Linked DNA regions of Homo sapiens: region 2 is linked to region 1. The links come from fine-mapping of genetic effects on gene expression. A gene starts in region 1. The other region holds a variant in brackets. All regions are shown on one strand. Distances are from middle to middle.

Region 1 (2,909 bases):
GATGTGAGGAAGATAAGAAAACTAGGTGCAGATTGTTTGAGACCTGGCCAAGACCTCAGAGCTAGAAATATCTGAATGAGATTACAACCCACAGGCTCTGAATAAAGCACCTGAAAGCCAGCCTCCTGTCCACTGGTGTGGTCCTGGGCAGCTGTGGCCGTCAGGAAAGGGAGAGCGTTGGGTCAGTTCTTCCCCCAGCAGCCTGGGCAGGGGTGGGAGGCTGGTGAGAGGGCAAAGGGGAGTCTGGCAGGGTGTTCTAGAGAGGAGGCCAACTGAGGAGAGGTATTAAGAGCAGGCCAGCAGGTTCGGAAGACTCTGAGGGCTTCTCAAGTGTTTGGTCACCTTTACCAGACGGGACAGAACACCATGAGAGGTGACACGATTTCCTAGTGGTATGATAATATAGATATGAGGAGTCAGGAAAAACTGGCTTATCTTTCCATCAGTTGGAGGTAGTCAATGTTTCCCTATCATTTTTAACTACCCCATTGCGTTTCTAAAAATCTGTATCTTTATTTCATTGTTCTAATTCAACACAACCGCAGATCGAATTTACTCAACGCCGTGGTAGAGGAAGGATTTTCAGGCTAGGATGAGCTCTGCAGAAGAGAAGCTTTACTTAGTAGAAAAGGCAGTGAATTTCTAGACAGAGACCTGCCCCATCTTACTAACTGGGTAGTCTTCCATATGTCTCTTCACCCCCTGGGTTTATCTCCTCTTCTGTAAAATGGGGATGAAAATGCCCACCTACCCACCTCCAAATGAGTGCTATGGCAATAAGTTGCACGAAGGCCTGTGAGCGCCCAGCCTAGGCTTTCTGCGGATCTGAACGGTCTCCAGGGTCTCTGTATCAAGCTCTTCACCATTCAGGAATGAAACACTGCGGATGTCTGCTCAGAAATGCAGGGAGAACCTCCTCCCACAGGGGACCTCCCGCCCTGCAGCTCATGAAGTGAAGGCTCGCAGATCGCCAGGCTCTTATTGTAGCTCGACAGGGGCGAGGCAGGCTAACTCCGGGGACGCAACAGGGTGGACCTGGAACCCGGGTTTCTTGGCCCAAGGCACCGAAGGCGTAGGGATTGCTGTTCCCGGCCCGCCCCTCGCGGTAGCTGCAACTGGGGGCATGTCCAGCGGCACGGTCTCCGGCGCCCGCAGCCCGGCTCGGGAACCACTTCGCTTACCTGCGGCTCCACCAGCCATCGCTGCTCGGCGCCGCCGGGCGCAGGGCGCGGGGCGCGGAACGCGGAGTACACGGGGATGCGGTCCCGGGTGCTGTAGAGGGTGGCGAAGCGCTCAGCACCCTCCGCGCGCTGACAGATCTTCACGTGGGAATCGGCCGCCAGCCCCGCAGGCGGGGTCCCGGCGTAGAAGAACTTGTCACATTCGCCAAAGCCGGCTTCCTCCTCGCCCACGAGCCGGCCTTCCAGCAGCCCAGCCAGGGCGAAGAGGCTGCCCAGCGCGAGCCAGCGCGCGGTGCCCATGGCGGCCTCTGCGAGCGCGGCGGGGCCGAGCGGCTGGGCTGCCGCGGCGCGAGCTCTGCAGGCTGGGCGGGGAGCGCACTACGCAGCCGAGCAGGGTAGGGAAGGGAAGTCGCAACCTAGGCGCGGCGCTCTGCGGAGCCGGGCGGGGCGGCCCGGGCGGCGGGGGCGGGTCCGCGTCGGGAGGCCGCGCCTCCCTCCCTGAAGATGGCTGCAGAGGCCCAGGGCCGCGCTCCGCGATGCTGACAACGTACCCTGGGCTGCGCCCGGGACTGGAGACGCGGGTCACCTGCCTCCGCGCCGCCTGGTCTCAGCAGTCCGGGGGACGCGCGCTACCAAGAGTGGAGAATCCGAGTGGGGCGGGCCTAGTCCCGGGGCTGGGAAGAGATAGTCGCATGGACTGGGCGCCAAGAAGCCTGCTGATCGCGCGCGCCCCACGGCCGCCCTGGTGATGCAGAGGGGTGGCGTGAGATGCTCGTGGAGCTGCGGCTGGTTCGGAGTGGATGGGCAGAGTTCCCCTCTGAAATTTCATGAAGATGCGTCTCCCACTCTCCACCGAAGTACTCAACGACCAGCACACGCATACAATTTTGATGGAGTTTTTTGTTTTTTGTTATGTTTTTTTAGCTCACCAGAAACTCAGAGAGTAAAGAAATACTGTTAAAGGAAGTTCCTAAACTAGGCAGACAGTATAACCCTGTGTGGTTTTCTTGGTGCAAGTGTTAGAAACAAAACCGATACCAAGCAAGGAAGGAGGCCAGCCAACGTCATTGGTCAACAGGTTGGCCAATTCTTTCCTTCATTTATCCCTCTGAATGCCTAGGTGCCAGCCTGAGATAGGCACTGGATTACCACAGGGGTAAACAAGAGCAGGGCTCCTGCGGTCACAAAGACAGCCTAGTGGGAAAGTTTGTCATTAACCGAGGAAACATGCTATTAAAGGGATAACTAAAAACTGAACACAGATCTGTGAGACCCTGACAGCTACAGGGGTTCAGGATGTAATCCGGGAAGGTTTGCCTGAAGAAGTGGCATCTGAGCTGAGACCTGGAGGATGACATTAACTAGGCAAGGAGGAAAACCATGTGCTAAGTGGTCTCCCACAGAAGGGAACATGATGTATTGGAGGAATTTAAGGAAGGCTAGTGTGGGTAAAGCGCGGAGAACCGCGTGGGGGATGATGGGAAGTGGGGCTAAAGGAGGAGGCAGGGGTCATATTACTCAGGTTATTATAGGCCAGAGGCCTTCAAACACTTTTTGAGAAGGCCCATAATGAGAAAAGTTTGATGAAATAATTCTTATGCTTATGATTGGCATTGCAATTTCATATTTCTGTTCTACTTCACTTTTTTAAAAAAGTGCTGGTGTTGACCCACTAAATTGTTTCTATGAGCCACTAATGGCTCATGACCTGCAGTTTGGAAAAAATAT
Region 2 (2,909 bases), 63 kb before region 1:
GTGTCAATTTTATGACTAATGGTTACACTAAAATTGTCTAAACCTTTTCTTTCTGGATTACAAATGATGGATGCATAAAATGCTCCCTCTGGCCTGGCTTTCTTCAAGTCACCTTGCCCCTGCCCTCAGGGAGCTCAGCTTCTCATCTGTCTCCAGAACTTCTGCCAGAATGCTTCACCTTTCCTTGGCCTCTGTTGCCACCTGCAGGAGCATTTGGAGGAGGGTTCCAGGACCCTAGATGCCAGAGAGGGAAGCAATAGGCATGTGAAATCTTGAGTTTCACCAGACAAAATCTCCTCACCTCTCTTGAGTTCATGCTGCAATATTTATGTTATTTATTTATGTTTATTTATTTGAGGCAGAGTCTCACTATGCTAGCCAGACTGGCTTCAAACTGTTGAGCTCAAGCGGTCATTGCCACCCACCCCCTCTGCCCCCACCTTAGCTTCCTGAGTAGCTGGGATTATAGGCACGCATAATCATACCCAGCAAAGCTCCAGTATTTAATCAGTTGAGTGACTTTAGGCAAATCACTCCTTTTAGCCTATTTCCTCATCTCTAGAAGAATATTTGATATCCATAAATTTGCTTTGATAGTGATTGTAAATGGGTCATTCATTTATGTATTCACGAAGCAAACAGCATGTTGGATAAAAAGACATGAAAATATAAGAACCTGAGAGAAAAATCACAATATTACAGGGGCATCAGTCAAACCCACAGGAAATTGTCAGTTTGTTTTGATAGACCTATAAACAAAGTGTCACATGATCTAAGTCATGCCTCTTGTCTGGTGCAAGCAGGGAAAGCTTCACAACAGAGGTGACATATTAATTGGACTTGGAAAACCACATAGGAGTTCACCAGGGTTTGGAAGAACACATAGGAGTTCATAAGGCAGAGAGGAAGGGAAAGGACTTTCCAGAAAGGGGAAGCAATAAGCCAAAATGTTTTGACCTGCAGGTTGTTCCCAAGGAGTGACTGAACTCTTGTATCCTGCAGCAAGCAGGCTTGGTAGGAGAGAAACGTTAAGGAGAGAGGAATGTTGCCAATGTCAAGGGAAGGAGTGGTGAGGCTTGGCCCTGGCAGGAGTCTAGTAGGGGGATGAAGAAGAGGAGCTATCAGGCTGCAAAAAGAACATTGAATCAGGATGGGCAGGTCTGCTTCATGGCCCAGACTCTTCCAACCACTCACTATGGGACCTTGGCTAAGTTAACCACCCTCTCT[A/G]TGCTTCAGTTTCCTCATGTGCAAGTGAAGATAATAACCCCCACCTCGCTGTGTTGTTGCCAGATAACACATGCAAAATCATTAACACAGTGCCTGCCGCAGATGTGCTCAAACAGGTCAGCCACTGGTGTTACCATTAGATATGCAGCTTCAGGGACTTATTTTGTCTCACCAATCCTACTTTCCTCGTCAATAAAGTGAGAACGAGAGTGTCTGCCTTGCATGCATCAGAAACTGTGAAGATACAATCAAGTAATACAAGCTGTACAGAATGAGATAATGAAGCCTACATTTTAAAATATAGCAGGCATCTACCAATCATAACGCAGTTTCACTTTCATTACGACGTTTAACTTTTTCTGACAACAACCTTATGAGGTAGGATTATAATGATGTTTATTTTACATGTGATGAAAGTTGGGTTCCTTCATTTAATAGATGCTCCTTGAGCAGGTTCTGTGAACAAGACAAGACCATGGGAATTGTAGTTGAGAAGAGGAAACAGACTGCAGGTACATGCTGGGGGAACCGGGGCTCAGGGCTTCGCCCTGCTATGTCTCTACTCACTCTCTGATGATCTCTCCAAGGGACTGATGGGGCTTTCAGTCCCATGCCTGTATCATGGCAACCCATATTTCTATCTCCAGCCCAGCCCTCTCCAGACCTGTGTGTCTGCCCAATCAATCTCTCCACTTGTTTTTCTAATGAACACCTCAAACCTAAAATATATAACATTAAGCTGTCTTATCCCTCTACCCCAGCATCTTCCAATCTCAGCCAGCAGCATCTCCGTTTTTCCAGCTGCTTGGAGTCATCCCTGATTCCTGTCTTTTTCTCATACCCAAAAAAACAATCAGACAGAAAATCTTATATATATGTAAATCTTCGCCCCGGTTGGAGTGCAATGGCGCAATCTCGGCTCACTGAAACCTCTGCCTCCTGGGTTCACGCTATTCTCTTGCCTCAGCCTCCCGAGTAGGTGGGATTAAGGGTGCACACCATCACACCCAGCTAATGTTTTGTATTTTTATTGATTGATTGATTGACTGAGACAGAGTCTCGCTCTGTCGCCCAGGCTGGAGTGCCGTGGCGCCATCTCGGCTCACTGCAAGCTCTGCCTCCCAGGTTCACACCATTCTCCTGCCACAGCCTCCCGAGTAGCTGGGACTACGGGCACCTGCCACCACTCCCTGCTAATTTTTTTTTTTTTTTTTTTTTAGTAGAGACGGGGTTTCACCGTGTTAGCCAGGATGGTCTCGATCTCCTGACCTCTTGATCCGCTCACCTTGGCCTCCCAAAGTGCTGGGATTACAGGCGTGAGCCACCGCGCCCGGCCTTTTATCCTACTTTCAAAAAACATACCCAGAGTCTGAGTGTTTCTCCTTACCTCCAGCGCCACTCCATGGCCCGAGCTCTGTTTCACCTGGTTCTCACCTGGATCGCGGCCTCCAATTTGCGCAGTGACCCCTACAGTCTATTCTCCAAACAGCAGCTGGCGTGGTCATTATGAAAAGCAATGTCCACCTGCTGCTCAAAAACCCACGAATGGCTCCCCATTTCTTTCCCATTAAAGCCAAAGTCTAAAACATTTACAAAGCGTTATATGATCAGTTCCTACCTGCTTTCCTTATGTTGGAGGCTGTGAAGCTCCTTAATATATAAACAGTTCTCAGGAGAAGGAA

The links. PIP is the estimated chance that this variant, and not a neighbour inherited with it, causes the effect.
Region 2: its variant is fine-mapped to the expression of ENDOD1 in whole blood (INTERVAL, PIP 0.95).

The regions. Positions count from the first base shown.
Region 1 is chr11:95,088,500-95,091,408 of GRCh38, reverse strand. ENDOD1 (endonuclease domain containing 1) reads right to left here and starts at 1,563. Exons shown (of 2, transcript NM_015036.3): 1 at 1,182-1,563. The coding sequence starts at 1,481. RefSeq lists a silencer at 1,312-1,741 and enhancers at 1,752-1,811, 1,882-2,161.
Region 2 is chr11:95,151,961-95,154,869 of GRCh38, reverse strand. The region is part of intron 1 of LNCRNA-IUR (lncRNA imatinib upregulated); the gene reads right to left. Among named protein-coding and RNA genes, the nearest start is that of LNCRNA-IUR, 2.9 kb to the right of the region's middle. The variant A/G (reference allele first, on the strand shown) is at 1,228.